Linked DNA regions of Homo sapiens: all the other regions are linked to region 4. The links come from fine-mapping of genetic effects on gene expression. A gene starts in region 4. Each other region holds a variant in brackets. All regions are shown on one strand. Distances are between the middles of the regions. Region 1 overlaps GANC (glucosidase alpha, neutral C). Region 2 holds the start of LOC124903605 (small nucleolar RNA U13). Region 3 holds the start of TGM5 (transglutaminase 5). Region 4 holds the start of CCNDBP1 (cyclin D1 binding protein 1).

What was found. PIP is the estimated chance that this variant, and not a neighbour inherited with it, causes the effect. A credible set is the group of variants that fine-mapping cannot tell apart.
Region 1: its variant is the best candidate, but not a certain one, in a credible set for the expression of CCNDBP1 in monocytes (Fairfax 2014, PIP 0.87).
Region 2: its variant is the best candidate, but not a certain one, in a credible set for the expression of CCNDBP1 in thyroid (GTEx, PIP 0.54).
Region 3: its variant is the best candidate, but not a certain one, in a credible set for the expression of CCNDBP1 in whole blood (TOPMed, PIP 0.83).

What each region holds. Positions count from the first base shown.
Region 1 is chr15:42,316,649-42,324,648 of GRCh38, forward strand. It overlaps GANC (glucosidase alpha, neutral C), which reads left to right. Exons shown (of 24, transcript NM_198141.3): 11 at 5,137-5,372. Among named protein-coding and RNA genes, the nearest start is that of CAPN3, 39 kb to the right of the region's middle. The variant G/A (reference allele first, on the strand shown) is at 4,053.
Region 2 is chr15:42,707,576-42,715,719 of GRCh38, forward strand. The region is part of intron 26 of STARD9 (StAR related lipid transfer domain containing 9); the gene reads left to right. It overlaps LOC124903605 (small nucleolar RNA U13), which reads right to left and starts at 1,217; the gene lies at 1,117-1,217. The variant A/T (reference allele first, on the strand shown) is at 3,883.
Region 3 is chr15:43,266,905-43,275,048 of GRCh38, forward strand. It overlaps TGM5 (transglutaminase 5), which reads right to left and starts at 24. Exons shown (of 13, transcript NM_201631.4): 1 at 1-24. It also overlaps the pseudogene ATP5PDP1. The variant C/T (reference allele first, on the strand shown) is at 3,921.
Region 4 is chr15:43,180,876-43,189,009 of GRCh38, forward strand. It overlaps CCNDBP1 (cyclin D1 binding protein 1), which reads left to right and starts at 4,528. Exons shown (of 11, transcript NM_012142.5): 1 at 4,528-4,732; 2 at 4,945-5,004; 3 at 5,279-5,358. The coding sequence starts at 4,624. It overlaps TMEM62 (transmembrane protein 62), which reads left to right. Exons shown (of 14, transcript NM_024956.4): 13 at 306-424; 14 at 3,385-4,269. The coding sequence ends at 3,711. LOC124903478 (a long non-coding RNA gene) reads right to left here and starts at 5,012. Exons shown (of 2, transcript XR_007064604.1): 1 at 4,894-5,012. RefSeq lists silencers at 4,254-4,553, 4,774-4,863 and an enhancer at 5,034-5,133.

The sequences.
Region 1 (8,000 bases), 860 kb before region 4:
AGGGAGGGGTTTAAGCCTCCAGATGACTGCTGGCAGGCCTGGATAATATCCAGCCTCCCACAGGAAGCTGGTGGAGCAGAGTGTTCCCTAACTCCTCCAAGGAAAGGAGACTCCCTTTCACTATCTGCTAATTAACGGGGCCTTCCCAGGTACTGGTGTTACCGCTTGACCAAGGAGCCCTCAAGCGGCCCTTATGCGGGCATGACAGAGGGCTCACCTCTTGCCTTCTAGGTCACTTCTCACAATGTCCCTTGAGTACCTGACCCTATACCCGCTGGTTATTCTAGGTTATATTAGTAATGCAACAAAGAGTAATATTAAAAGCTAATGATTAATAATGTTTACGCTAATGATTGATAATTGTCCATGATCATCTCTATATCTAATTTGTATTATAACTATTCTTTATTCTAACTATTTTCTTTATTATACTGCTACAGTTTGTGCCTTCAGTCTCTTGCCTCGGCACCTGGGTAATCCTTCGCCCACACATGATAGCCAAAAGGTAGAAACAATCCAAGTGCACATCAAAGATGAACACATAAACAAAATGTGGTATATACATGTAACAGAATATTATTCAGCTATAAAAAGAAATGAAGTTCTGATACATGCTGCAACATGGATGAACCTTGAAAATATGGAAAATGAAATAAGACACGAAAGGACAAGTATTATATAATCCACTTATATGAAGTAGCTATGATATGCAAATTTGTCAAGACAGAGATGAGAGGGGGCTGAGAGGTGTGAGTGTTAGGGAGTTACTGCTTAATGATTACAGAGTTTCTGCTTGGGGTGATGTAAAGGTTTTAGAAATAGTGGTAATGCTTGTACTACATGGTGAATGTAATTAATGCCATTGAATTGGACACTTGGAAATGGTTAAAATGGCAAATTTTGCTATATATATTTTAACACAATTTTTAAGAATCAATAATGTAATATGCCATAAAAACCCTCATTAAATTGTGCATTTTAGATGGGTAAATTGCATGGTACGTGAATTCAGTAAAGCTGTTAAAAGTATTGCAGCATCATTTCTGCTGCATTCAGTTGTTAAAAGCAAGCTAAGTCTAGCCCATGTTCAGTTCCAATTGTGATGGGAGGAATGACAATTTATGGATATGGGCACCCATGCAGGAATAAGTGCTATCAAAGCCCACCTGCAGCTACATTCAACATTGTTATTAGTGAGAATGCTGGTTTATGATAAAGCACTTCCAAAATACTGGATCTCCCACCATGTTCAAAGACAGTAAAGATTATTTGTTGACTCCTGCTGAGGGTTTAGCTCAATCATATACCATACCCTCCTCCGTCTCCCATCCAATCTAGTTATATCACAATTTTTGGTTAAATCAATATTCAATGTTTACATTTTTCACATGCTCAAGGGTGTCTGTTACTTTATCCAGTCTACTTCTTTCCCTGGAGACTTCCTTCCCTACCAGAGCTCTTCATCTTCCTCCTCCCATCTGGACCATTGTTCTCTAGGTTCCCTGCACAGCTTTCATCTCAGAACTTACCTTTGCTGTTTTCTGGTGTTGTATCCCTCCTTTCTTCAGTTCCCTGTTTTTCTCTTTTCTGGTTTATTCCCTTGCTGTGTTTATTTGTTTGTAGCATCTTCTGGTAGTTTCCTAAGAACATTTGCATTGGAGGTACTCTTTTTGCTTCCTTGCAGGTATGAAACCATCTTTTTTCCTACCTTTACCTTTGGCTGATAATTTGCCTGGCAAGACTGAATATTCTTTCTCTCAGAATTTGAAGGCATTTCTTTTACTGTCTTCTACCTTCTTGCTCCAAAACCATTCTTAATTCTATTCCTTTGTTCCTCTGTATATAATCTATCTTTTCTCTCTGAAATACCTTCTCTTTATCACTAACATTCCAAATTTCCAGTATTCTGAAATTTTGTAATAAAATCCCTTGATGGAGATCTTTTGTTTGTTTGTTTGAGTCAGGGTTTTGCTCTGTGCCCAGGTTGGAGTGCAGTGGTGTGATCATGGTTCACTGCAGCCTCAAGCTCCTGGGCTCAAGCGATCATCACACCTCAGAATCCTGAGTAGATGGGACTTAACAGGCATGTGCCACCATGCCCAACTAATTTTTTCATTTTTTATATAGGCAGGGTCTCCCTAGGTTACCCAGGCTGGTTTTAAAACCCTAGGCTCAAGGGATCCTCCCACCTCAGCTTCCCAAAGTGCTTTACAGGGATTACAGGTGTGAGCCACCATGCCTGGCCCTAGGTCTTTTAAAATAATTATTGTTCTGGATGTTAGATGTGGACCCCTTCAATCCTGAGAATTGTGTCCTTCAGTTCTGAGAAACTGTTTTGTATTATTCCTTAGATTAATTTTTCCCTTCCTTTTTTTCTTTCTACTCTACGGATTTTATAATCTCCTTTTCCTTTTTTGCCTAGTTTTTGAGCAATTTTCTCAATTTTATCTTCTAGGCTTTCCATTTATGCTATCATGTTTCTGCTTTCAAGGAGCTCTTTCTTATCCTCTGATGGTTCCTTGGTTTTTGTTTTCATTTTATGCAAAGCAATGGCAAAACATTTATTATCCTGAAATGTGTACATCCTATTTTTTTCAAGTAGCAAATTTGCTGGTAACATAATTTATTTAACCTGTTTCAGTCAGACAAACTCATGATCAATGCTGCTCTGTATAATTTCAAGTCTGATGAGCCTCTTTTTTGTTTTTTTGTTTTTAAACAAAAAACACTCTGTTGCCCAGGCTGGAGTGCAGTGGCGTGACCATGGCTCACTGCAGCCTCTAGCTCCTGGGCTCAAGCAATTCTTCCGCTTTAGCCTCCTGAGTAGCTGGGACTGTGGGCATGTGCTACATGCCCAGCTAATTCTTTTTATTTATTTATTTTAATTTTTTTGTTGAGATGGGGTCTTGCTCTGTTGCCCAGGTTAGTCTTAAACCCCTGGTCTCAAGCAATCCTCCTGCCTTAGCCTTCCAAAGCACTGAGATCTTCTAAGTATTTTTACCCCACTTCTAAAACTTGATGAGGAATTCAAAATAGCACACCACGTTAAATGACATTTATTGTTTTATAAATTGTATACAGGTTGAGTATTCCATGCTTGGGACTCTAGAGTGTTTCAGTTTTGGGATTATTTTGAATATTTTCATTAAACTTACTGGTTGAGCATCCCAATCTGAAAATCCAAAGCCCAAAATGCTCCAATGAGCATTTCCTTTGAGTGTCATGTTGGTGTTCAAAAAGTTTCAGATTTTAGAGGCCAGATTTGGTGGCTCATGACTGTAATCCCAGCACTTTGGGGAGCCAAGATGGGCGATCACCTAATGTCGGGAGTTTGAGACCAGCTTGGTCAACATGGTGAAACCCTCTGTCTACTAAAAGTACAAAAATTAGCTGGGCATGGTGGCATGCACCTGTAGTCCCAGCTACTCGGGAGGCTGAGGCAGGAAAATCGCTTGAACCCAGAGGCGGAGGTTGCAGTGAGCTGAGATCGTGCCACTGCACTCCAGCCTGGGCGACAGAGCTAAACTCCATCTTAAAAATAAATTAATTAATTAATTTTAAAAAAAAGTTTCAGATTTTAAAGTATTTCAGATTTTGGATTTTCAAATTAGGGATACTCAACCTACACTTGTTTTATGCTATCCTAGTCTTGTTTAAGGGTATAATACCTTATTTCATCTCTCTAGAGATACTAATGATAATGTTTTGATATTTACTTTGGTTCCTTGCATTGTTCCTGTTTTCTTGGAGATCCTTTTCTGTTTCCTTATTTGAGTCACTGTCTCTGATTTTGGAGACTTTGCTCAAATGTGAGTTTTGAGACACAATCTCACTCTGTTGCCCAGGCTGGAGTACAGTGGTGCAATCTCGGCTCACTGCAACCTCCACCTCCTGGGTTCAAGCAGTTCTCCTGCCTCAGCCTCCCAAGTAGTGGGGACTACAGGTGCCCGCCACCACACCTGGATAATTTTTGTATTTTTAGTAGAGACGGGGTTTCACCGTGTTGGCCAGGCTGGTCTCGAACTCCTGACTTCAAGTGATCCACCCACCCC[G/A]GCCTCCCAAAGTGCTGGGATTACAGGTGTGAGCCACCACACCTGCCTCCATTCATATTTCATGGTGAGGCTCTGTGTGCCTAGATGAGGCTTCCACTCTAGTTTTGAGAGTGGGCATGTCTACTGGTGTTTGGGAGCAGGGTGAGCTCTTCTGTCAATAGCCTCCTCAATACCACTCTGGGGAGAGCTTCCCTGGCTTTGGCCAACAGTTACCACCCTGCTCCTGCCTGCCACCTGCCAAATTTTTGTTGAAATTACTCCACTCCCATTCTCTTTGTTTTTGTGGCTTTCTTCCTTTTTTCTTCTCTTTACTCAGATTTTAGTGTGACTTTAGGAGGGGAAGGAGATACATGCAAGTGGTTGACCAGAAGTCCTTCACGTTATCAGTAAACATTTTGATAATAATTTACTGAAACTTCTTCCCAACTTCAGTTTCTTTACCTTTAAGTGAGTCCCAATGCTGCACCCTGACTTAATTTTTCTAAAATATAGGTCTGCTAAGATTACATCTTGCCAGACTTTTGATGGCTTCTCATAAGACAAGATTCAGAATTCCTAACCTCAATTACAGGGCCCTTGACAATCTGACCCTATTCAGTTTCATCTTCTACTGGTCTCTCTCACAGTGATACCCTTGAATATTTATTTTTCTGTAAGCCTGTCATGTACTTCCTTGCCTCTGTGTTTTTTCTGTTCCCTGTGCCCGGAATGCTCTATCTATTCTTCCTGTCTGGTATATTCCCACTAACTCTACAAGGTCCAAACCAGGTTTTATCTCCTCTGTGAAGCCTTTCAAGACCCTATACTTCACCACAGGCAGAATTTATTAACCTCTCTGTGTTCTGGTAGCACTAAACTGATGCTTAACCTGGCAATTATACCTCAGGGCAGAGCACTTTATTTACACTCCTGCCTCATTAGCCAGGTTGTCACTTCCTTAAAGGCAAGGACTGTGCTTTCTTCTCCTTGTTATTCTAAGCATAAGCTCAGTGCTGAATACTCTGTAGACATTCAGGAAATGTTTATCAAATGAATAATGGTCATTGCCATGGCAGTTGACTCAGTTGTCATCTCCCTCTTTTAGGCACACAAGCCATGCCCCCTCTTTTCTCTTTGGGATACCACCAGTGCCGCTGGAACTATGAAGATGAGCAGGATGTAAAAGCAGTGGATGCAGGGTTTGATGAGCATGACATTCCTTATGATGCCATGTGGCTGGACATAGAGCACACTGAGGGCAAGAGGTACTTCACCTGGGACAAAAACAGATTCCCAAACCCCAAGAGGATGCAAGAGCTGCTCAGGAGCAAAAAGCGTAAGGTAAAATAAGCCAACATTTCTGAACCTTTTAATTACAGAGTTTTAAAAAATGTTTTAGACTTGCCTTGGCACATCAGTGGTGGAGAAACATCTGATAAAAAATGGCTGTGAAAATAGTAGATTCAAATATAATTGTCACTGTGATAAGAGAGAAAGTGAATGGTAAAAAGGTGATGACCCCATCCATTCCTGGCTTAGTTATCTAGGTCACCATAATGAAGAAGGGGTCTAGCATTTTCAGTTCCGTTTGTTGTGGCCACCCTGTAGTAATGTGATCCCCCCACTCAAAATTTAGTTTCCATGTCTCAATTGGTGACACCACACTTGCACTAAGAGTATATTAAAAAGTTTATTACTCATATAATGAGGCTTTCTGGGGAGAGCAGGGGTGGCTCCCAAGCTGGTTTGAAAATGGCTTGAGAGAACTGAGAAAGGAGATTGGCTCAGCTTTTATGGTGGTTAGCGGGTGGGGACAGGGCAAGGGCTCTTGCACGCAGGCTGAGGCTTAGATAGTTTGAACCCCCTGCTGGCACCAAAGGAGGGGGCACTAGAGCTTTCTTTGTCAGCTTGTCCAGATACGGGCCGAAGGGTAAGGGGGGAGTAGCAGGGCTTGAAAACGCTTAAAAGTCAAATATCAAATATGGTATCAAATTCTTTATTACACTGTTTTTCCTGCATGCTTCCCTGGTGGACTCCACCTGTCAATCTGGCCAAGAAAAGAACGGAAATAGAAAATGGGGAGGGAGAGAAGCCCCTGGAACATGTATAATGCTGCTTTCCAGTTCCAGGAGTGGTGGTGGTGGTAATAGCAATAATGAAAAGATGGAAGGAGAGAAGAAAATGGAGAGAGGAGAAGGGGGGCGAAACCCTATGTGTATCATGTGAGTGAATAAAGTCCCTCTCCTTGAAAGTAAGGTTGACTTTTCAACCCATTCCTTTGACCTCCCCACCAGGCTTTTCACAGACAGCCAGAGCCCATCCAGTTAACTCCTAATTTCCCAATTAATAAATAGTTACCATATATCAAGCTGTTATGGGCTAGACAATATGATAAAACACATTATTCCATCCAGCGATGACAAAACTATAAGGTAGGTCTTGTTACCCCATATTTTAGATGAAGAAGCTGAGGCTTAGACTGGTTTCAAAATTTACACAAAGGCACACAGTGAATAAATAGCATGGCAAGAATATGAACCATGGTCTGCCTGACTCCAGATCTTCTGTCCTTAATAAGTAGTTATTTAATGAGGCCTTGAACCTTCAAGATGCTATGGTAGTGCTGAAGGGTATACAGAGATGAGCTCCTTGTGGTCTTACAGTGAGTGAAGAAAAGGCAAGTATCCAACTACAATACAGGAAAGTAACATAAGGGCCAAAGAAAGGTCAGGGTAGGGGCAGGCCAAGAAAGAGAAGATTGTATCCTCAAGACTTAAGCAGGGCTTTGTTCCAGAGGTGCATTTTATTTTATTTATTTATTTTTTATTTAATTTTTTTTTGGGGACAGAGTCTCACTCTGTCACCCAGGCTGTAGTGCTATGGTGCGATCTCAGCTCATTGCATCCTCCATCTCCTGGGTTCATGCAATTCTCCTGCCTCAGCCTCCTGAGTATCTAGAATTACAGGCATGTGCCACCATGGCCAACTAATTTTTGTATTTTTAGTAGAGATGGGGTTTCACCATGTTAGCCAGGCTGGTCTTGAACTCCTGACTTCAGGTGATCCGCCCACCTGAGGCTCCCAAAGTGCTGGGGTTACAGGCGTGAGCCATCATATCTGGCCTAGAAGTGCATTTTAGATGAGCCCTGAAGCATGTCCCTAACTAATGAGTAAGCAGGGAGAGGGAAGAGGGCAATGCAGCCAGAGGAAGGAGCATTAGGGGTGTTCGGAAAGCAGTGCACAGGCAAGTTTGACAGCCAGGCATGTGAGGGTTCTAATAGTGGAGGATCTGACCAGAAAGGTTGGGACCTTTGTGTAAACTGCTTTGTATGCATTTGGAAACATTACAAGTTTTTGAATAAGGGGTTAATATCCAGAATATATAACAAACTCCTACAACTCAGCAACAACAAAAAAAAACAGTTAAAAAGTGGGCAAAGAACTTGAATAGACATCTCTCCAAAGAAGATACACAAATAGCCAACAAGCACAAGAAAAGATGCTCAACACCACTAATCATTAGGGAAATGCAAACCAAGACCACAGTGAAATCCCATTTTACATAATTAAGATGACTACTATTTAAAAAAAAAACAAAATAACAAGTGTTGGCAAGGATGTAGAGAAATTGGAATCTTTGTGCACCGTTGGTAGGAATGCAAAATGGTACAGCTGTTATGGAAAACAATATGATAGTTCCTCAGAAATTTAAAAATGGAATTACTGTATGATCCAGCAATTCCACTTGTGGGTATATACCCAAAGGAACTGGAAGCAGGAACCTGAAAAGATATTTATACACCCATGTTTATAGCAGCATTAGTCACAGTAGTCAAAAGGTCAAAGCAACCCAAGCTGCTTGGGTTGCAACTCCATTGACAGACGAATATGTAAACAAAATGTGGTATATACGTACAACAGAATATTATTCAGCCTTTAAAACGAAGGAAATTCTAATAGATACTACAG
Region 2 (8,144 bases), 470 kb before region 4:
TCTCCTGCCTCAGCCTCCCCAGTAGCTGGGACTACAGGTGCCTGCCACCATGCCCAGCTTATTTTTTTGTATTTTTAGTGGAGACGGACTTTTACTATGTTGACCAGGCTGGTCTTGAACTCCTGACCTCATGATCCGCCCATAAGATGAGATATATTACTATTTGTGAATTAAACAACATATACAGTATATAAATACAACATACACAACAATCACTTTTTGCAAGAACACATACAAACAAAAAGATACACTCTAAGCACATCAGAATGATTTGGATGGGAGTGTGAAATGGGGATGAAAAGTAAAAAAATTTGAGAGCCAGACACGGTGGCTCACATCTGTAATCTCAGCACTTTGGGAGGCTGAGGCAGGAGGATTGCTTGAGCCCAGGAGTTTGAGTCCAGACAGGGCAACATAGAAAAAAAAAAAAAAGCCAGGGTGGTGCTGCACACCTGTAGTCCTAGCTACTCAGGAGGCTGTGGTGGGAGGATTGCTTGAGCCTGGGAAGTCGAGGCTGTGGTGAGCTGTGACCATGCTGCTGCACTCCAGCCTGGGTGACACAGCAAGACCCTGTTTCAAAAAAAAAAAATTTCTTTTGAATCATCTTTTAAAGTTTGATATAATAATCCTTTTAAATTGACAAGGCTTGGTGTTTCAGTAGGGGATTAGTTATTTGAAAAACTTCTTCAATGGAAGATGGTCTGTTAAGATCAGGGGTTAGCAAACTATGGCCCTTTGGCCAGATCTGGCCTGCTTCCTGTTTTTGTAAATAAAGTTTTACCGGAATACAGTCATGCCCATTCATGTACATGTCTTCTATGGTTGTGTTCCCACTACAGTGGCAGAGAGTTGAGTAGCTGCAGCTACTCAAATGGCCCACAAAGCCTTAAATATTCAGTATCTAGCTCCCCACAGAAAAAGTTTTGCCAGCCTTTGGTTTAGATATTTCATCTCTCCTGGAGCCCCTTTTGATTCTAACTTATTCATTTCTGTGTATGTTGTTATCAGTTTCTTTTTCCTATTGTGATAGTTTCTCAGTCTTTTCTTGCTTCGTGGTTAGTAATTTTTTGGAATGTATTTATCTGCTGTTTCTTGCTTTTTTTCTTTTTTTTTTCATGTAAGACAGGTAATGTGCTGACGTAACAAGGTTTGAGAGAGGCACTTCTGAGACATGTATGTGAAAACCCGATCGTCATGCTTACGAACTACAAAAGGATCGTGTCTGTGGTTTTCTTATGGTTGGATTGAAGTTATGCGTTTTTGGCAAAAAAAATACCATAGAAGTGATTTGCCCTTCTGAAGGTTGACAGATTAGGCAAAGAAAAATACAGGATGCTAGTTAAATTCAAATTTTAGACAACAAATAGTTTTATAGTATAAGTATGTCTCATGCAATACCTTATTCTCGGTGCATTGTATCAGAGGTTACCGGATACCGACATGTCCTGTTTCTGGTGATGTGAACTTTGATGTTAAGGTGGTGGTTGGGGGTCTCTCCACTGAATGTTGCTATATTGTCCTTTATGATTAATGAACATGGCTGAATGTGGTGGCTGACGCCTGTAATCCCAGTGCTTTGGAAAGCTGAGGCAGGAGGATCACTTGAGTCCAGTATTTTGAGATCAGCCTAGGCAACATAGTGATACGCCATCTCTACACACACACACACAAAAGCTATGTTGGTGGTGCATGCCTGTGGTCCCAGCTACTTGGGAGGCTGAGGTGGGAGGATCGCTTGAGCCTGGAGGGGAATGGAGGCTGCAGTGAGCCATGATTACATCATTGGCCTTGGACAGAGGGAGACCCTGTCTCAAAAAATCTTGGAGACTAGCTGGGCAAGGTGGCTCACGCCTGTAATCCCAGCACTTTGGGAGGCAGAGGCGGGCGGATCACGAGGTCAGGAGTTCAGGAACAGCCTGGTCAGCATGGTGAAACCCCGTCTCCACTAAAAATACAAAAATTAGCCAGGCATGGTGGCACACGCCTGTAGACCCAGCTACACAGAAGGCTGAGACAGGAGAATAGTTTGAACCCGGGAGGCGGGGTTTGCATTGAGCTGAGATGGCGCCACTGCACTCCAGCCTGGGTGACAGAGCAAGACTCCATGCCCCACAGCAGCCCCCCAAAAAAATATTGGAGATGATGGAAAATCCTGTTTTTCCTCAAACTTTCATCCACTGATTTTAGTGTCTACTGGTGTATCTTACCTGTAAAAATTATTACTGTGATATTTTAGGGAATTTTGTATTTCCCTCATTTATTCTACATTTATTAATTGGAACTTTTCTCTAAGAAAGTGCAGTCCCTTCTTCCGCCACTTAATTTATTCAACTATTTAATTTTTTTCAGTTTGGAATCATATTCTTTGGGGCGTAATTCAATACAGTACTGTCATTATTAATTTCATTGTTCAACTTGTTCCAGCTTTAATTATTTGGAGTTCTTTCAGCTTGGGTCTTGTGTCCTTTTGACATGCCCTGTCTTTTTTTTTTTTTTTTTTTTGAGACAGGGTCTTGCCGTGTTGCCCAGGCTAGAGTGCAGTGACACAATCATGGCTCACTGCAGCCTCGACCTCCCTGGGCGCCGGTGATCCTCCCACCTCAGCCTCCTGAGTACCTGGAGTACAGGTGTGCACCACCATGCCCGGGTACTTTTGTATTTTTGTTTTCTAGAGATGGGGTTTTACCATGTTGCCCAGGCTGGTGTTGAACTCCTGGGCTCAAGGGATCTGCCCGCCTGAGCCTCCCAAAGTGTTGGAATACGGACGTGAGCCACCGTGCCTGGCCCTTGAGCACTTCTTTAATTGATTTTTTTATTGTTATAATCCATTGGCTTTAGTATATTCATAGAGTTGTGTATCCATCACCAATTTTAGGACATTTTCATTACCCCCCTAGTTATTCCCTAAATTCACCATTCCCCAGCCCTTGGCAACCACGAATCTACTTTCTGTCCCCATGGATTTGCCTATTCTGGACATTTCATATAAATGGAATTACACAATATATGATCCTTTTTGATGGCTTCTTTCTCCTAGCGGAATGTTTTCAGGATTGTGTTAGTTTCTTAGAATTGCTGTAACAAATTACCACTCACAGAGTGGCTTCAAACCACAGACATTTATGCTCTCATAGTTCTGTAGGCTAGAAGTCCAAAATGTTGGTGTTAGCAGCACCATACTCCCTCAGAAAGCTCCTGGGAGAAGGATCTGCTCCAAGCCTCTTTCCAGGCTTCTGATGGGTTACCAGCAATCCTTGGCATTCACTCCCATTTCTATCTCTGTCTTCACATGACATTCTTGCTCTCACTTGTGCGCTCTCTCTCTCTCTCTCTCTCTCTGTGTGTGTGTGTCTGTCTCCCTGTCTGTTTGTCCCCGTGTTTTCACATAGCCTTCTTTTTTTTTTTTAATTTAACTTTTTTTTAAGAGACAGGGTCTCTGTCACCTGGACTGGACTGCTGTGGTGCAATCACAGCTCATTCTTACCTGCAACACCTGACCTCAAGTGATCCTCCCGCCTCAGCCTCTCAAAGTGCTGAAATTACCATCGTAAGCTACCACATAACTTTTTTTTTTTTTTTTTGGAGACAGAGTCTTGCTCTGTTACCCAGGCTGGAGTGCAGTGGCACGATCTCGGCTCACTGCAACCTCTGCCTCCTGGGTTCAAGCAATTCTCCTGCCTCAGCCTCCCAGGTAGCTGGGATTACAGGCATCCGCCACCACGCCCCGCTAATTTTTTGTATTTTTAGTAGAGACGGGGTTTCACCATGTTGGCCAGGCTGGTCTCCAACTCCTGACCTCAGGTGATCCACTCGCTTCAGCCTCCCAAAGTGCTGGGATTACAGGCGTGAGCCACTGCACCCAGCTCCACATAGCCTTCTTAT[A/T]AGGACATTAGTCATTGGATTTAGGGACCACTCTAATCCAGTACTATCTTATATTAACTTGGTTACATCTGCAGGGACCTTATTTTCAAATTAGGTCAAATTCACAGATACTGGGAAAATACTTCAACATATTTTCAGTGGAGACAGTGATTTAACCCACAACAAGGGGTCCTTCATGTTGTAAAATATATGAGAGCTTCATTCGTTTTTATGGCCGAGTAATACTCCATTATATGAATAAACCACATTTTATTTATCCATTCTTCAGTTGATGGACATTTAGGTTGTTTTGTGCTTTTTGCCTACTAATGAATATTGCTGCTATGAACATCCCTGTAAAGCTTTTGTATGGATATGTTTTCATTTCTCTTGGGTATGTATCTAGAGTTGAGTTGCAGGATCATAGAGGAACTGCCAGACTGTTTTTCACAGTGGCTGTCCTATTTTACCTTCCCACGAGCAGTATATGAGCAGTGTGTTTCTCTCCGTCCTCACCAACAGTTGCTATGACCTACTTTTGATTATAGCTGTCCTAGTGGATCGGAAGTAGTACCTTATGTGGCTTCAGTTCCATTGCCCTGATGGCTAATGGTGTTGAGCATCTTTTTATATATATATATATATTATATATATATATATAATATATAATATATAATATATAATATATATATAAATGTGCCTTTGCCCATTTATATGTCTTCTTTGGAGAAATATCTAGCAGGATATTTTGTCTATTTTAAGATTCGGTTATTTGTCTTTTTAAGAGTCCCTTAGCAAATATATAATTCACAGAAAATGTCCTCCCATTCTTTGTGTCTGTTCACTGTCTTGATATAGTGCCCTTTGAAGCCAAAAGTTTAATTTTGATGATGTCCAGTTTATTTTTTATTGTTGTTCCTTGTGCTTTGGTTTCATATCTAAGAAACGAGTGCCTAATCCAGGATCACAAAGATTATGCCTATGTTTTCTTCTAAGAGTTTTATGCTTTTAGCTTCCACATTGCATTCTTTGGCCCATTTTGAGTTAATTCTTACATATGGTGAGAGCTAGGGGTTGAATTTCATTCTTTTCCATATGGATATCCAGTTCTCCCAACAACATTTGTTTAAAAGATTATTATTTCCCCCATTGAATTGTCTTGGCACCCTTGTCAAAGATCAGTTGACTATAGACATATGGCTTTATTTCTGGACTCCTAATTCTATTCCATTGATCTACATATCTATCCTTATGCCAGTACCACACTTTTTGTGTGTGTGTGACAGGGTCTCGCTATCTTGCCTGGGCTCGTCTCAAACTCCTGGCCTCAAGCGATCCTCCCACCTCAGCCGCCCAAAGTGCTAGGATGACAGGTGTGAGCTGTTGCACCCAGCCTCACACTGTCTTCTTTACTGTAGTTTTGTAGTACCTTTAGAAGTCAGGAAGTAGGCATCTTCCAACTTTGTTCTTTTTCAAGATTACTTTGACTATTCTGGGTTTCTCAGATTTCCATATGAATTTTAGGATCAGCTTGTCAATTTCTGCAAAGAAGTCAGCTGGGATTTTCATTGGGATTACTTTGATGGGTAGATCAATTGGGGGAGCATTGCTATCTTAATATTAAGTCTTTAGCTCTGTGAATATGGGATGTCATTGTGTTTATTTAGGTTTAATTTCAACAATGTTTCGAAGTTTTCAGAGTATAAGTTTTATGCTTATTTTATTAAACTTATTCGTAAGTATTTTATTCCTGTTGACAGTATTATAAATGGAATTGTTTTCACTTCATTTTCAGTTTCTTCATTGCTATTATGCAGAAATAAAATTGATTTTTATATATCGTTCTTGTCTCCTATACCCTTGCTGAATTCATTTATTAGTTCTGATGGTTTTTTAAAATAGATTCCTTAAGATATTCTATATGCAAGATCATGTCATCTGCCTTTTTTGTTTTTGTCTTGCCAGTTGTGCTGGCTAGAATCTCCAGTACACTGTTTATTAGATGTGGTGAGAGCCGATGTCCTTGTCTTACTCCTGATTTGAGGAGGAAGGTATCCATCTTTCACCATTAAGTATGATGTTAACTGTGCATGTTTTATAGCTGACCTTTATCAGGTTGAGGAAATTCCCTTATATTCCTAGTTTTTTGAATATTTTTATCATGAAAAGGTACTGGATTTAGTCAAATACTTTTTTCTGGTGTCTACTGAGATAATCTTACTGGGTCTTTTCTTTTATTAATATAGTGTATTGCATTGATTTTTGTATGTCGAGCCAGCCCTGTGTTTCTGTGATAAATCCTACTTGCTCGTGATATATGATCTTTTATGTGTTGCTAGATTTCAGTTTACTAGTATTTTGTTGAGGATTTGTGTGTGTGTATTCATAAGGGATATTACTCTATAGTTTACTTGTGATGTCTTTGCCCAGTTTTTGTGTCAGGGTAATTCTGGCCCTATAGAATGAGTTGGCAAGTGTTCCCTCCTGATTTTTGGAAGAATCTGGGAAGGATTGGTATTAATTCCTTAAACGTTTGGTAGATTTTACTAATGAAGCTATCTTGAAATTTTCTTTGATCACTAATTTAGTATCTTAAATTTGTAAATAAAATATGCACTAAGATTTTTTTTTTTTTTTTTTTTTTGAGACGGTGTCTTGCTCTGTCCCCCAGGCTGGAGGGCAGTGGTGCGATCTCAGCTCACTGCAAGCTCCGCTTCCTGGGTTCACGCCATTCTCCTGCCTCAGCCTCCCGAGTAGCTGGGACTACAGGCGCCCTCCACCATGCCCGGCTAATTTTTTTGTATTCTTTTAGTGGAGACAGGGGTTTCACCATGTTAGCCAGGATGGTCTCGATCTCCTGACCTCGTGATCCACCCGCCTCGGCCTACCAAAGTGCTGGGATTACAGGCGTGAGCCATCCCGCCCGGCCTGTACTAAGATGTTTTATTTCTCCTTGAGTCAGTTTAACTTTTGAGTCAGTAATTTACATTATTGAATTTGTTGGCATATAGTTCATAGTATTAATTCATTTATTTTTATTTCTTTTCATGGATGTTTTTAAAGCTAAAAATTTCCCTCTGAGCATTGCTTCAGCCATTTTCCATAGCTTGTGACATGTATTTTCATTTTTAATATAATTTTGCATTTTCTGTTTGTATTTCTTCCTTGATTCAATTGTTGAGAATTTCTTAAACCATTTTTGAGGCCAGGTACAGTGGCTCATGTTTCAAACTCCTGGACTCAAGGGATTCTCCCGCCCAGCCTCCCAGGCAACTGTACTACAGGCACAGTTATCTTTTGAATTATATTTTCTTGTAATACTTTTATACTCCTCCATCTCCCAGTATATCTTTGATCCATAAAGCATAAAGGATCCATTTTGGTATGTCTGTGAAATGGGTCTCTGATGCAATCTTTTTTTTTTTCAGATGGCTGCCCATTTGTCTCAGCAGTACTTATTGATTAATTTATGGATATTTATTTTTGGAAGTCAGTATCCAATAATTTTTGGATATTTATTTTTGTACAGCACTGGGAACAGATTAGGTTACTTAGGAATATATTATGGAGTGAGAAAATAGGGCCTAGGCCTGAATTTTGAAAGAATCCCAAAATGTCAACAGTTGAAGAGGATGTATCAACAAAAAAAAAAAAACCACTCAGAGAGATGAGAAGCCGGGGCCTCTGGAAGTGATTCTGTCAGTGAAAGGGAGAGACTGGCTAAGTCAAAGCTTGCTGAGAGACTCAGGAAATGTAGGACAGAAGTTATTTACATGATCCAGCCACACGGACACCGTGGACCTTGGTGACTGCTGTTTGGAGGAGTGACGAGGGCAAATGTTAGATTAGGGTGGGTTCAGAAGTCAGTGAGAAGTGGGAGATGGCAAACAGCGAGACTGGTTGCAAGAAGCTTATCTGTGAAGGGCAGGAGAGTGAAGAGGAGGGTTTTAAAGATGAGAGAAGCCGGGCACAGGGGCTCACGCCTGTAATCCCAAAACTTTGGGAGGCCGCAGAGGGGAGGATCACTTGAGCCCAGGAGTCTAAGACCAACATGGGCAACAGGGTGAGATCCTGTCTTTACAAATTTTTTTTTTTTTTTTGAGATGGAGTCTCTCTCTGTTGTGCCCAGGCCGGAGTGCAGTGGCACAATCTCGGCTCACTGCAACCTCTGCGTCCTGGGCTCAAGCGATTCTCTCAAGTAGCTGGGATTACAGGCGCCCGCCACCACGCCCGGCTAATTTTTTGTATTGTTAGTAGAGATGGGGTTTCACCATGTTGGTCAG
Region 3 (8,144 bases), 86 kb after region 4:
GCTTCAGCAAACTGGTGCCAGAGTGTCTACTTCCCCTTCCATTGGAAGCCTCCAGGAGAACCGAAGGCGGGGCTGGACTGCTGCACTGCCACCTGATTACCGAGCAGATCACAACTGGTTTGCTCACTTGCCCTCAGGTTTTTCTTGGCAGTGTTGCTGAATTGAAAGGAGGTGTGGAGGCTGATGAACTGTCACAGCCTTATGCCGTGTGGGCCTTTGATAGCTCTTGAGCAATAGGGCATTCCCAGGGAGGTGCTGTGCTGTGGTGGAGAAGTCAGGAGGGAGAAGCGAGCTGATGGGCCCGCCAGAGGGATGCAGGGGGCTGCTGGAAGGAGCATCAGGGTCCCAAGACTCTGCTCACAGCTTAAAGCACCTCATTGAGCCGAGAACCCTGCTAGGTAACCAAGGCCTCTCTTTTATCCTGAAAAGTCACTTCCTGAACATTAAATGCAAACAGAACCCTCTCTGTCTGGATCTCCTTCGGTATGATTTCACTGTATTTAGCTTTGGCAGTGGCATTGTCTTGCATGAGACCTGGCAGGTCCAAGACAAATCACAAATAAAAGCAAATAATCACAAATAAAATAGAGGAAGAAAAATTGGGAAGATTTGTGGAGGAGGTGTGGAAATAGGTGAGAGGGTGGGAATGCCGGTGAGCAAGGGCCTTGATCCTAGTAAGAAAGGCACAAGCCCTTTCATAGGGAGAAAAGCGCAGGTGGAAGGAGAGAGAGGGCAGGAGGGGGAAGGGCTCTGCCTGTGGAGTGGGTGGGACCCCCATGCCTACCCTGTCTTTCTGTGCTCTGGGGCACTTCTCCCCACATCCCCTGCTTTCTGGGTCCTTCTCCCTGGGGAACCTCTTTCACCAGCATTGTCCTCCCTCCTGTATTTTCAATTCTCTCTGTCCCCACTCAGCTCTTTTTTAAAACCTATGTAATTATTTTTATTTTTAATGTCCAGAATGTGTACTATAAGGGCCAGGGCTTCTTCCTGGACTTAATTTTATAAATTCTTGATTGGTTGGTGAGACCAATAGCGATACTTTTTCTTGTCTAATTTGGTTTCCGGGAAAGCTTCGTTCAAGTCGTCAATGGTCATCTGATCAAATGGTATTAAGTTCCTCATCTTCTCCAGCTGTTTCTCATATTCTCCAACCTGGCCTTTGAGAGAGACACCCACTCAGCACAAGTTTTCCCATCTTCTTTTTCTTCAGCATCCACCTGGGCAGTATATTTATCCTCTGGTACAGGAAGCTTCAGGACATTAAACTTCTTCTCAAAGTCATCCACCAAGCCTGCCTTGGCCACATTGGCCTTGTAGTAAGTCCAGTCAATAGCTGGTGGATTCTCAGGTAAAGTAGCCAGCCTGGAGGTGAGGGTCTCATTCCAGGATTTCAGATAATTAGCAATGGCCTTTTGGTTTTGGGGTATCATCTCTGCAAAAGCTACCCAGTCAATGGTTTTTAGAGCAAGTTTTCACCCAGCCATCTTGGTATACTTCACTGACCATGGCAGCCCATGGCCCACACCCCACTCACCTCTTATAGGGTATATGTGCACAAATGCAGTTCACTATTTTAACACAGCACATCCACCTTCAACTCTCATCCCCAGCTTCCCTAGCAGCCCCTGCCCTTTCTCTCAACTCCACTTCTCAGCCAAGCTCCTTGCCCACTGCTTTGCCTCCCACCACCCCTCACCTGCTGCAGACTGCCTTCTGTCCCACGGCTGCCTCGACGCCACGCTCACCTCCCAGCTCTGAGGGCTGGGCTCTGGGCGCCTTTCCTGCTCTTACCCTGCAAGGCCTCCTGCAGCCCTGCGGGTACTGTCCACTCCTCCTGGGCTTAGGTGACTTCTCTCTCTTGGTTGTCTAGCTGCCTCCTTATCCCCACTGTCCTCTTCCTCTCAGTCCCCATCACAGACTTTCCCTTCTTGAACTGGTGCCTCCCAGGGATTTGTCCCCATCTCCTCTCTTCTCACTCCACTGGCTCCCGCGTGACACTGGGGACCCCCAGAACTGTGTACTGCGGCACCCTCTGCTGGACAGCTCCTCTGGGGGAAACCTTGGACACTTCACAGCCAAGGAGTCCAAATGGAACTCTTCCCCTTGCTCCTTCCTCTCAAAATACCTGCCCTTCCTCTTGCACGTCTGGTCTTGATGAGTGAGGACACTGTCCATCCATCACTTCAGGGGACACCTGCGTGCCACCTTGTACTTCTCCAGCTTCCTGATCTCCCTTTAGCCCATCAGTCCAGCCCAATTCCTGATGCTGTCCTGAAACGGTGCCCCCCTTGCTCTGCCTTCACTGAAGCCCCCGCTTACCTGGACAACTCCTAACCAGTTTCCCATTCACCCTTTCTCCAAATGAGTCACCAGTGATTTTTCTGAAGTGCCAATTCCATCAGGTTGCTCCCCTGCTTAAGATCCCACAGTGGGTAAAGTCCAGACTTCTCAGCATCACCCTCAAAGCCTTGAGGGTCTTCCCCTCCCCACCTGGAGGCCAGGAAGGCTGACCTCCTCTCTCCCGCACCTCCCTCTCTCCCTCTCTCTTGCATGCATCAGCCTCTCTCTTTCTGAAATGTCCTCCTCTCACTCTACTTTCTCTGGTACCCAGGCTCGAGCATCACCCCTCCAGGAAGTCTTCCTGACACCCTTCCTCTGCTGCACCCGGATTCTAATAGGGGCTGCTTCTTCTGTATTTCCTATTAGCCAACTCATGCCTCAACATTATAAATACTTATCTGTCTTTCCCCCAATCACCCTGGAGGGCATGGACTGTGTCTTATTAACAGCGTTCCCAGTGCTTAAGAATGACAGTGCCTAATAGTAGCAGAACGACTAATACAACCAGCAGTAGCTTTTAATAACATATACTATTTTGAGGTATTTATATGCATGACCCCACTTGGTCTTACAACATCCCTATAGTTAGTTACTGTTATTGTTCCTACATTACAGATGAGGAAATCGAGGCTTAAAGACATTAAATAGATCATTCACAAAGAACTGGTAGAGCTAGATTTTGAATGCAGCCGTCAGACTCCAGAGCCTGGGTGCTTCATAAGTGCTTGCTTGCTGCAATATCTGGAACATAGTTGGTTTTCCAGTTCGTATTTCTTGCCCGATAGAGTGAATGAATTAAAAGATGGTCCCTACATAAACAAATGGATGAATACCTGAACCCACTGCCACATGCTGAGATGGGTTAGCTGGGAAGGAGGAAGGAGCATAGGCAGGAGACTGTAAGGGGCATAGGCAGGAGAGTGTAAGGGGCATAGGCAGGAGAGGGGGAACAGGAAGGTAAGTGCAGCTAGGGTAACTGTGGTGGCCAAAGGAGAAAGTGCCCAATGGCCAGCGGGACACCAGTCTGTTTTGTGGTGCCCAGGCCAGCCTGAAGCATCTGGGAACAGTTGAGAGGATTTTGGAGCAATCAGGCAGTCACTCTGAGTAAAGTCCCTTGAGTTGTGCCAGCCTGAGTGGCTGAACTCTTGGCAGCTTTGCCCATGCCCCAACCTTGAGGAGAGGGCAGGGAACTCACACCCATTGTGGAGGGCCTGGGCCTCCCCCAAAAGACCTCACATGTTCAGGAGCACTTAGAGAAGTCTTGTTTAAGGTAGCCACTGGACAAGAGAGGAGGCGGAAGCACCGCAGGGGCACGAAGCCCATTCATAGGGTCAGGAAAACCCTGGCCAGCTCCTCTGCCTGGACCGTAGGGCTGAATAAGACCTGGGCTCTGGGCCTAGGGAGCTGGTTTATAGGTTCAGCCCCTCATTCGATTTCTGTGAGCCATTAGTCAGAGGGTATGTGGGTGAGGGTGCTGGGGAGAGGGAGGCAGCTCTGATAGAGCAGCTTGTCCCTCAGCACAGGGGAGGGGACAGGGAGAGAGAGGGAGGCTAAGCAGGGTTGATGAGCACCTTCCTGTC[C/T]GGAAGGAAGCAGGGCTGTGCCCACAGGGGAGGGACACCTGAACAGAGAAGTGAGGACACATCTGCCATCCGCATGGGGCAGGCCAGTGCTCACTAGGTGGGGGTGGAGAACCTCCAGAACTTCCTTTTTTTCTTTAATTTTACAGATGGGGTCAGACCTTTCTAAGACCCAGAGAGACTTGGGTGCTGATTCCGGCCCTGCCATGAATTTCCATTGTGCCCCTGGGCAGGTGACAGTTTCTTTGCCTATAAAATCAGAGGCTGTGACGGGCTGGATGCCTGGGTCTGAGGGAGGGTGAGGAGGTGCCCCACAGACGATTGCACAGGGAAGCCACAGCTGGCAGACGCCAATGGATTCCTCTTTCCCCTTCTTTTCTCACCCCTAGAAACAGAGACAGTCACCCTGGAGAAGGGATTAAACTGGTAGAGGGCCTCTGTGAGTGCACTTCACAATTTACAAAGCACTTCAATTAAAAAAATTTTTTTTAAACTTTTATTTCAGGTTCGGAGGTACATGTGCAGATTTGTTACATAAGTAAACTCATGTCAAGGGGGTTTGTTGTACTGATTATTTCACCACTGAATACTAAGCCTAGCACCCAATAGTTCTTTTTTCTGCTCCTCTCCCTCCTCCGACCCTCATCCCTCAAGTAGACCCCAGTGTCTGTTGTTTCCTTCTTTGTGTTCATAAGCTCTCACCACTTCTAAGTGAGAACATGAGATGTTTGGTTTTCTGTTCCTGTGTGAGTTTGCTAAAGATAATGGGCTCCAGCTCCATCCACATTCCTGCAAAAGACATGATCTCATTCTTTTTTATGGATGCATAGTATTCCATGGTATATATGTACCATATTTTCTTTATCCAATGTGTCATTGATGGGCATTTAGGTTGATTCTATGTCTTTGCTATTGTGAATAGTGCTGCAATGAATATTCGCATGCATTTGTCTTTATGATAGAATGATTTATATTCCTCTGGGTATATACCCAGTAATGGGATTGCTGGGTCAAATGGTAGTTCTGTTTTGAGCTCTTTGAGGAATCACCATACTGCTTTCCACAATGGCTGAACTAATTTACACTCCCACTAACAGTGTATATGTGTTCCCTTTTCTCTGCAGCCTTGCCAGCATCTGTTTTTTGTTTGTTTGTTTGTTTTTTACTTTTTAATAATAGCCATTCTAACTAGTGTAAGATAAGATGGTATCTCATTGTGGTTTTGATTTGCATTTTTCTAATGATCAGTGATATTGAACTTTTATTCATTTGCTTGTTGGCCACATGTATGTCTTCTTTTGAAAAGTGTCTGTTCATGTCTTTTGCCCACTTTTTAATGGGGTTGTTTTTCTCTTGTAAATTTGTTTAAGTTCCTTATAGAGACTGGATATTAGATCTTCGTCAGATGCATAGTTTGCAAATATTTCCTCCCATTCTGTAGGTTGTCTGTTTACTCTGTTGATAGTTTCTTTTGCTGTACAGAAGCATTTAAGTTTAATTAGATCCCATTTGTCAATTTTTGCTTTTGTTGTGATTGCTTTCAGCATCTTCATCATGAAATCTTTGCCTGATACTATGTCTAGGATGATATTGCCTAGATTGTCTTCCAGGGTTTTTATAGTTTTGGGTTTTACATTTAAGTCTTTAATCCATCTTGAGTTGATTTCTGTATACAGTGTAAAGAAGGGGTCCAGTATCAATCTTCTGGATATGGCTAGCCAGTTATCCCAGCACCATATACTGAATAGGGAGTCCTTTCCCCATTGGTTGTTTTTGTCAGTGTTGTCAAAGATCAGATGGTTGTAGGTATGGGGCCTTGTTTCTGGGCTTTCTATTCTGTTTCATTGGTTTATAGGCCTGTTTTTCTACCAGTACCATGCTGTTTTGGTTATTGTTGCCCTGTAGTATAGTTTGAAGTTAAATAATGTGATGACTCCAGCTTACAAATACTTTATATTTTTTATGTAAAATAAATATACATACTTATTTATGTATACTTTATATATACAAATACTTTATTTATTTATTTATTTATTATTTTGAGATGGAGTCTCACTGTCGCCCAGGCTAGAGTGCAGTGGCACAATCTTGGCTCACTGCAAACTCCACCTCCCGGGTTCAAGCGATTGTCCTGCTTCAGCTTCCTGAGTAGCTGGGACTACAGGTGCACACCACCATGCCTGGCTAATTTTTTGTATTTTCCGTAGAGATGGGGTTTCACCATGTTGGCTGGGCTGGTCTCTAACTCCTGACCTCAGATGATCCTCCTGCCTTGGCCTCCCAAAGCGCTGGGATTACAAGAGTGAGCCACTGTGCCCGGCTGCAAAGCACTTTAGAATACACTGCCTCATTTGATCCTCACAGCAACCCTATGAGGGAAAGTCAGGCTGACACTCCTATTATTATGTTATCATTTTACCCCTGGGGGAACCAGGGTCACACCATGAGGGAGTCCAGAGCTCTTTGCTTTGTATCACACAATAATGCTGGATGTCGTGAACCCCAAAACCATCAGCCACAAGGACCTGAAGATGACAGATTCTGTGCACACCATGGGGGGATGGGAAGACCAGGAATCAGGAGCCAAGGGTGCTGCCTGGCTGGTGCTGCTTCCTTGCTCCACAGTGGAACATTTCTTTTGTCACAGTTTGTCTGCAGGAGCCACTGCCTGGCCTGGGTGGCCAGCCTTACTCTGTTGTTGTGAGGCCAGGGGAGGCTTGCTTAGGAGCTGGTCTCAGGGGGCACCATAGCAGTGGGCATGAAGGAATTCCAGCGTTCCAGGCCCTGGGGGATGTCCAGCTGGAAGGGAGCTTTGAGATGATCTAGTTTATTCAACTGAGGTGGAAAAAGAAAGCCAGACAGGCTTGCCTAAGTGAAACGAAGAAGGAGGAGAAGGAGGAGGAGGGGAGGGGGTTGGGGGAGGATACAGAGTATAATTTTTTTTTTTCTTTTTGAGATGGAGTTTCACTTTTGTTCCCCAGGCTGGAGTACACTGGTGGGATCTCAGCTCACTGCAAACCCTGCCTCCTGGGTTCAAGAGATTCTCCTGCCTCAGCCTCCCGTGTAGCTGGGATTACAGGTGCCGCCACCACACCCAGCTACTTTTTGTATTTTTAGTAGAGATGGGGTTTCACCATGTTGGCTGGGCTGGTCTCGAACTCCTGACCTCAGGTGATCAGCTTGCCTCAGCCTCCCAGTGTGCTGGGATTACAGGCGTGAGCCACCATGCTCGGCCCAGAGTATAATAATTTTTAAAGTCAATTTTTAGTTGGGGACAGGGAAAATAATTTGAAAGGTAGGCTGGAAAGGCAGAAATGACCAACATCCACATACCCCTGAGAGGTCTTTCCCAGGCCAGTAGGAAGCCTGCCTGCTGTTCTTCTCCAGTGACACAGCCAGGGATAGGAAAGGAGGGCCGTGACTAAACATGAGGACTCAGTGCTTGGCAGAGAGGCGAGGTTTCACATTCCTGCAAGGGCAGCTCGGGTGGCCCTCTCCTGATGGCAGGGAGCCACCTGGAACACAGCATGACAGGGCAGTGACAGGGCACCACGGAAATGCCCAATGGTACCTCATGGGGATGGGTGCAGCTGACACATGAGGCGGAGTGAGGACATGCAGGCTCCTACCCTTCCTGACCCAAGCAGCTGCGTGCAGGCAGGGCTGGGGGCCACCCCAAGAGAGAAAATAGGCCGGGTGCAGTGGCTCACGCCGGTAATCTCAGCACTTTGAGAGGCCAAGGAGGGCGGATCACGAGGTCAGGAGTTTGAGATCAACCTGGACAACATAGTGGAACCCCGTTTCTACTAAAAATACAAAAAATAAAATAAAATTAGTTGGGCATGGTGGCAGGCAACTGTAATTCCAGCTACTTGGGAAGCTGAGGCAGGAGAATCGCTTGAACTCGGGAGGTGGAGGTTGCAGTGAGCCGAGATCGCACCACTGCACTCCAGCCCGGGCAACAGTGACAGACTCCATCTCAAAAAAAAAAAAAAAAAAAAAAAAAAAGGAGAGAGAGAGAGAGAAAATAGAAGGGAAGGAGAAGGAGGACTAGGGGCAAACAAAAAAATACAGAGAAGAGAGGGAGGGGGAAGAGGAGGAAGGAGAGCAGGAAAAGGGAGGAAAAGGGAGAAGAGGAGGAAGAAGAGGGAGAGAAAGAGGGAGAGGAGGAGGGGAAGGGAAGGGAAGACTGAAAGAAGTCAAAACTATAGAGCCGCGGAGCAGGTG
Region 4 (8,134 bases):
GGTTATTATTGCAATGGAATTTTCAAAAATGTGAGTGTGCTTTTTTTGTTTCTAGAATCTATAAGACACATATCTGTTCTAGGTATAGTGTCTACTAAGACAATTTCACAATCCAAAAAATAGTTGGTTAGCAAGGATATCAAGTACAACACAGAGACTAGCAAAGAGGGAAGGCTATGAAATAAAATGCTTATAGATGGCTAGTCTCATATCTCTGCTTTATTCCTATAAATGTATCTCATGATATATGTAATCAGAATTATAGTTATTTAATCTCCTCCTTTTTTGTCCATTGCCTCTTTTAGGTCCATGGTTTTTTGGTGAAATCATTGATGGCAAATTTGGTTGCTGCTTTTCCTTTGGGATATTTGTTAATGGACATTTCCTACAAGGCAGCATAACATTTATAATTGGAATTCTCCAGGTAAGAAGTCAGAAAAGCAATTTAAGAACATCTTGGACTTGTCAGACTAATTGCATAACAGTTATGAATTAAATCCAAAATCCAGAATTAAGTACCATAGATCATCTTTCCTACTTTACTTGCAGGGCAGTCTTTAATAAAAGCTTCATTTGCTTTTAAAGTGCTTCCTAAACTCCTTCCACCACTCTCATGTAAACATCTAAAATACATTTTTTTTTCCCCAAGACAGTGTTCTGCTGTCGCCCAGGCTGAAGCACAGTGGTGCAATCTTGGCTCACTGCAGCCTCCACCTCTTGGGTTCCAGCGATTTTCCTGCCTCAGCCTCCTGGGTAGCTGGGATTACAGGCATGTGCCACCATGCCTGGCTAATTTTTGCACTTTTAGTAGAGACAGGGTTTCACCATGTTGGCCAGGCTGGTCTCGAACTCCTGACCTCAGATGATTCACCTGCCTTGGCCTCCGAAAGTGCTAGGATTATAGGCGTGAGCCACCATGCCTAGCCTAAAATACATTTTTGTCATGAAGTGTTTATAAGAGGTGAAAGAAGTTTTTGTTGTTTTTGTTTCACTGTGCTTTTTCATTGACAAAAAAATGAAACAAGGGATTATGGTAGAAAAAGTTTTAGATTTCTGAGTAAACCAAAACTGATTATGATGATGAAGAAGGAAAATATTTTAGAGGGAGGAAACTAAAAAATAGACACATTAAAAAAATGGGTCAGTTATTCAGTGGAAACTGCATTATTCAAAAACCAGACCTGGGCTTTCCTAGCAATGTACTTGTTTAGGAAACAAACTGATGTATTAGGTTTACATTTGATTCCTTTAAAATAAACACACAAAGAACCTTGATCCATAGAAAAACTACATAAACAGATTTGAAAAGTATTTATCTAACAGTTTCTTTATTTTACTCACCTAATGGAGTTAGTGGACCAAAATTTGAAGTTTTGGAAGAGATCCAAAAACATTCAAAATAAGTTCATGGCCTTCTAACAGGGCAGTAGAACATGATCCAACAGGATTAGAGACAGCCAAGTAGGAAAGACTTCTGCCTAGCAAACACTGACCCAAGTCCAGAATATTCTCTGCATAGCAGCATTATATACATGAGTAGGTCCTGGGTTCATTTCAGTTTTCTTTTCTTTTCTTTTCTTTTTTTTTTTTTTTTTGAGATGGAGTCTCGATCTTGTCGTCCAGGCTGGAGTGCAATGGCATCGTCTCGGCTCACTGCAACCTCTGCCTCCCTAATTCAAGTGATTCTCCTGCCTCAGCCTCCCATGTAGCTGGGGTTACAGGTGCCTGCCACCATGCCCGGCTAATTTTTGTATTTTTAGTAGAGACAGGGTTTCACTGTGTTGGCCAGGATGGTCTCGAACTCCTGACCTCAGGTGATCCGCCCGTCTCGGCCTCCCAAAGTGCTGGGATTACAGGCGTGAGCCACTGCACCCAGCCTCATTGCAGTTTTCTATTATGTTGATGGAGGCTGTCTCTAAGGAGCTCTCTCATACCAAATGAATCCTGAGCCTTACCAAAAGGCAGGGTTTTTTCCTTTGTAAATGTTTACATTCATATTCTAATAAATAGTACACTAATAATGGATTTTATGTATCATCCAGACCCATGAATCCCAAATCTATATCTCTGATCTAGACCTCTTCTCTGCACTTCAAGTGCCTCTATATCCAATGGCCACAGATGTCTAACAGGCATCTCAACTTCATGTGATGTCTCTCTGATAGGAACATTATTTCCACCCCAAACCTGTTCCTCTCTGTTTTTCCAGTTTTAATAAATGACTCCACCATTCACCTGATTTCTCCAAGATGTATCCTCAATTATTCCCTTTCCTTCATACCCTGTATCTATTTCACCAGCAAGCTCTACCTTATTTGATCTGCTTCCAATGCATATCTTGAATCCATCCACTTCTCTCCATTTCTGTTTTCCTAATCTAAGTTGTAATTATTTCTTGCCTGGGTCTTCTCCCTGATATTCTTGCCTCCTTACTCTCAGCTTAATACAGAGCATCCAGTGTGCTCTTTTAAAAACTTTACAATCAGCTCACTTACTTTTCAGCTTGAAATGCTTTGAAGCAGAGCAGTGATCTGGGTCCTGCCGACTGCCCCAATTTCCACCTGGCTCATGCTCTGCATGCACTTCCTTAAAGAGGCCAAGACCTCTCCCACCTCTGGGCTTTTCATTTGTTCCTTCTGCCTAGAATGCACTTCCCTCCGCTGATTCATTCTTGTCCTTCTGGCCTCTGAGAGCCTTTCTCCCAGTTACCTTCTCATGACCCAGTTCTTTCCTTCATTGAACTAATCACGATCTGTAATTATATTTTTTGGTTTTTTTTTTTGTCTGTCTTCTCCCTGTTAGAATGTAAGCTCTATGACGGACCTTTTCTAACTTGTTTGCCATTGTGTCCCCAACTTGGAGCCTAGCTCATGCCTGCTACATAATGGGTGCTCAATAAATATTTGTTAAATGAATGAATCATACAGCAGCTCAACTTGGATTATAATTTAGATACTCTAATTTATATTCCAGTACTTATCATGCTACCTCAAACAAAAATGGAGGTAAGAAAAAAAATACTGATAGCCAAGTCCTCCCCTCACTCCACCAAAAAAGAGGGGTTGTTGTATGTGTGTGTATACATTTACTCAGTTCAATTCCAGCTTAACACCATTGGGTATTAACTGTGTATATGATACTGTACTACAAGTTGGGACTTCAGCATAAATTAAATGATACCTGCCTCTAAGATGAATAAAAGGACATGGGCAAATACACAACTAGCCACAAGTCAGCTGTTGTGTTATAAGCAACTGTGCTTGAAGTAAATTAGCTAACGCCAAGACAGATAGCAGCATAGTCTTAGGATCCACTAATAATGCATTATTAAGACCAAACTCTTCCAAGGACTTGGGAGTAAGCTATGGTTCTGTTCTTTTCCAGCTGGCGTTTTTTAACATCCCCTTGATGGCTTACATGTGTTGGAGCTTGCTGCAGCGGTGCTTTGGTCACAACTTCAGGTCTCATCTCCATCAAAGAAAATACTTGAAAATTATGCCTGTTCACCTACTTATGCTACTGCTGTACATCTGGCAGGTTTATTCCTGCTACTTTCTTTATGCAACATACGGCACCCTAGCTTTTTTATTCTCCCCTTTGCGGACCTGGTTGACACTGCTGACACCTGTTCTCATTCGTTATGTGTGGACACTGAACTCCACCAAGTTTGGAATCTTCATGGTGCAGTTAAAAAGCCACCTGAGCTCCTGAAGGCCATGTCTCACCACTGGCAGCTGGGCAGAAGCCCAGCCTCTGTGTCTGTAGCCCAGGCCTCTACCCCAGTAGCAGGTGGAGGGCCAGGATTGGTGGGTGAGCTTTAGGGAGCAGCTGCTCGTTTGGAGTCCTGGACGTTGGAGGGATTACCCACTACTGATACCTGCAGAATGGACTGCAGAAAAGTCTCAAAAATAATGCCTTTATTCCTTCCCTCCCTAAGGAGGCAAAGAGTTGATTTACCTTTGTGAAGAGAAAACCCTTATCTAGGACATCCACAGGGTAGAGGTTGGGTGTGTGTACGGGAGTGTCTGAGGCCCAGTGTGTTTTTTAGGGTTACCCCATGTAAAGCACTTACCGCTGTGCTTGGAATTCAGCAGCTGTCAAAGGTGCAATTTCAGGGGCAGGGAACCTTTGAGGATCTGGGCCCGACCCTCACTACCCCTGAGATATTAGTTCCCAGGCCTGTTTTCCCACAGGATTGTGGGCTCTCTGCTTCCTTAGTCGGAAGTGTTTTCAACTAATCAAATAAATGAATGAATGATGAATAAGAAAGACGGTGAGCCTGAGGCTTGCTTGTGTAGCCTGGCCTAAGGGGCAAGAGAAGGCGTGGCCTGTCCTGGCCTCTGAGAGTGGGATGGTTGGTGCTGTACCTCAGGGGACAGGGCGGGGCGGGAGGAGGCGGGGCCAGGCCTGGTCTCTGATAACGGGATGGGTGGTGCTGGACCTCGGGCGGGGCCGGGCCTCGTGGCGGGAGGAGGCAGGGCAGGGCCTCTGGGACGGGGCTGGACGGCTTGTTGACGGAAACGAGCCCTTGACGCTGTGGCCCGGAAGTGGAGCGGCTGTCGCAGTGCGGCTCCGGCAGTGGCAGCGGAGGCCTGTGTTTGCGGCCTTCGGCAAGCGACTGAGATGGCGAGCGCAACTGCACCTGCAGCCGCAGTCCCCACCCTGGCTTCGCCTTTGGAGCAGCTCCGGCACTTGGCGGAGGAGCTGCGGTTGCTCCTGCCTCGAGTGCGGGGTGAGCTGACGGAGTTAGAACGGGCGACGGCAGGGGCGGGCTCGGGGTCGGGGAGAGGCCGGGCTCGGGGTCGGGGAGAGGCCGGGCTCGGGGTCGCGGAGAGGGCGGGCTGGGGCGGCGGCGGGGAGCCGGGCTTGGGCGAGGGAGGTGGCTCCGCTTACCTCAGCTTTTCCATTCGCCACCGTTCGGCCCCCACACGCCACACCCACAAGTCGGCGAAGCCCAGGAGACCACCGAGGAGTTTAATCGAGAGATGTTCTGGAGAAGACTCAGTGAGTGCGCCTCCTTCCGGGCTCCCCTTGCCTCAGTTCCTCCAGCGTCCCGACCCCTTTTCCTCCCGCTGTCCCCCACGGAGGGGACTGCTCTCCCCCGCTGCATCCTTTCTGTGAGGTACCTTACCCACCTCAGCACCTGAGAGGGTGAAATAGAATTCTAACCTCGACATTCGGGAAGTGTTTTTGAGAAGTCTCGGTCGGTAAGGGAAGTCTTCCAAGTCCGTGCAGCACTAACGTATTGGCACCTGCCTCCTCTTCGGCCACCCCCCAGATGAGGCAGCTGTGACTGTGTCAAGGGAAGCCACGACTCTGACCATAGTCTTCTCTCAGCTTCCACTGCCGTCTCCACAGGTGGGCTTCACTTTCGTGGAATCCTTGGGCTGCCGAGTTACACCTTAGGAATCCTCTAATTTTCTTTCCACCTTTTGCACGCACGCCAGGAGATTTCTTTTCTTCATCTGTCCAGTGAGGTTACCGTTTTTACTTCACAGGATTGTTGTGAAGACCGAATTGCCAAGTGCAGTTCCTGGCGCGGAGTAGGCAGGTCTTATAAATATTGGTTCAGTCTGAAGTTTATCCTGGTTGTTTCCCTTCTGATAATTTTTTAAGCACTTTTTATTTGCTGGGTGTTTTCACATACTTGATGGCCATCTGACAGATGAGCAAGGAGGCTCAGAAGCTCAGCTTAAGATTTAAAAAAAAGCAGGGGGGCTAGAATTTAAATCAAGGTCTATCTGATGTCTAAGCTACCTATTCTGTTATACTGCATAATACCCTTTTTATATTATTTTTTATATTTAATCAGTAACATATGTAGATAGTACAAAATTCAACAGATATCAAAGTGTGTTAAGTTTACCTTTCCACCCACTTTCTCATTTTTGTCTCCCCCAGTTCCTTTTGCATTATTCCACGTATATTCTGTGCATATATACATTCATATACATTTATCTGTATGTGTCAGCTTCTTTTTACACAAATGATACATAAACACTGTTCTGGACCTTCCAACTTAGAATTACTGCAAACAGTGTCGTGATGAATTACCTAATTCTGTGTATGTGTGTATATTGGTAGAAAAAATTCCCGGAAGTAGAATTGCTAGAACAAAGATTTATGCATTTTAAATATTCCTTTATTATAAAACTAATGAAAGTAAACATGTTGGCTATGACCACGTATGCTCTATGCTCAGTTTTTCTAGAGTTGTGTATGCTTAATATAGGAGTAAGATTCTTTTAAAATGGCATATTCATTGCCTTATTTGATTTTCATAGTCAATTGTTTTAATTTTTCAGTCTACATATATAGGTGTTTGGAAAGGATATAAATATCTTCTGCTGCATGTACCTACAGTGATAAACTCTCTCCTCCTACATACCTTTGAGATTTTTTTTTTTTTTTTGAGACAGAGTCTCTCTCTGTCACTCAGGCTGGAGTGCAGTGGCACAGTCTGGGCTCACTGCATCCTCTGCCTACCGGGTTCAAGCAGTTCTCCTGCCTCAGCCTCTCGAGTAGCTGGGATTACAGGCACCTGTCACCACGCCTGGCTAATTTTTGTATTTTTAGTTGAGACGGGGTTTCACCATGTTGGGCAGGCTAGTCTCGAACTCCTGACCTCAAGTGATCCGCCTGCCTTGGCCTCCCACAGTGTTGGGATTACAGGTGTGAGCCACCGTGCCTGGCCTACCTTTGAGATTTGTGATGAGGAAACAAGAGATGAATTGTATGAGAGCACTTCAAAAGATTCATGGAAAATACTTATTTCAAAAAGAGTAGTTAATATTACCTTATTTTTCTTATCTGCTAACCCCTTTCTTTCAAATGCACTTAGGACTTGCTGCTAAAACTCACTGCAAGTAAGATACCACAAGGAGGCAGCATAGAACTGATTTTCTATACATGCTCAGGACAGTAGTTTCACTCATAGATGAAAAGTTAGAATTTGGATTTATTTGAAATATATACAAATATTCAAGTATATACATATATTCAAATAAATACATATATGTATATATGTGTGTATATACACACATACATACACATGAATCATCATTGCCTTCTTGAGATCTCACCACTTTAGTCCTACTAAAAGATGGGTGGTTGTTGGTTTTTTTTTGTTGTTGTTGTTGTTTTTTAAATTCCAATCTGTATGGAATGATACTTTAATAAAATTATGTGCTCGGATGTTGAATAAATGTCAAATTGCCATAAAAGTTTCTAAACACTCTCAGTCACTGCTTATCTCATCCCTGACTGGTCACAAACAGTTTGTAGACTGGCTCCAACCTGGACCACATTTGTATAGTATTGACTTAGAATTTAACAGAAAATTGAGGACAAGGAAGATGAGAAAGCCAGTGACCACCTAGAAGGAAAATAGTTAACATGGAGCATTGTCGAGTCCATGCTAGTTACCTTTAGTTACATATTCTGATTCTGTTAAAAAAAGAGAGAGACCTGGTTAATGGTTTAATAACCATGGTCTGTCAGTTGGTCTGTCTGTCTCTCTCCCTCCCTCTCTTTTCTGTAAAGGGCCAGTTAGTAAATATTTTAGATTTTGTAACCAACTACCCAACTCTGCCCTTATAGAGCAAACACAACTACAGACATTAAAACCAGTGAGTATGGCTGTGTCCCAATACACTTCATTTCCAAAAACAGGCAGTGGGGCCTGACTTGGCCTGAGGACCACAGTTTGCCAGCTCCTGGTCTAAGATATCATGAATATCTTGGGATACAGAGTATCAGGAATAAGTTTTTTCCTGCTGTTTCTTAATGGTTTATTGAGTTGTCAGCCCAATATCTACTATATAGCTAACTCCTCCCTGGTATGTGATGAGTATAGTAGGCCTGCCTTCATACCAGGACTTCAGAAAATGTTTGATGATGCTGTAGAAATATCTGCCCTAGGCCGGGTGCAGTGGCTTACACCTGTAATCTCAGCACTTTGGGAGGCCAAGGGAGGTGGATCACCTGAGGTCAGGAGTTCGAGACCAGTGTGGCCAGTGTGGCAAAACCCCATCTCTACTAAAAATACAAAAAATTAGCTGGGTGTGGTGGCGGGTGCCTGTAATCCCAGCTACTTGGGAGGCTGAGGCAGGAGAACTGCTTGAACCTGGGAGGT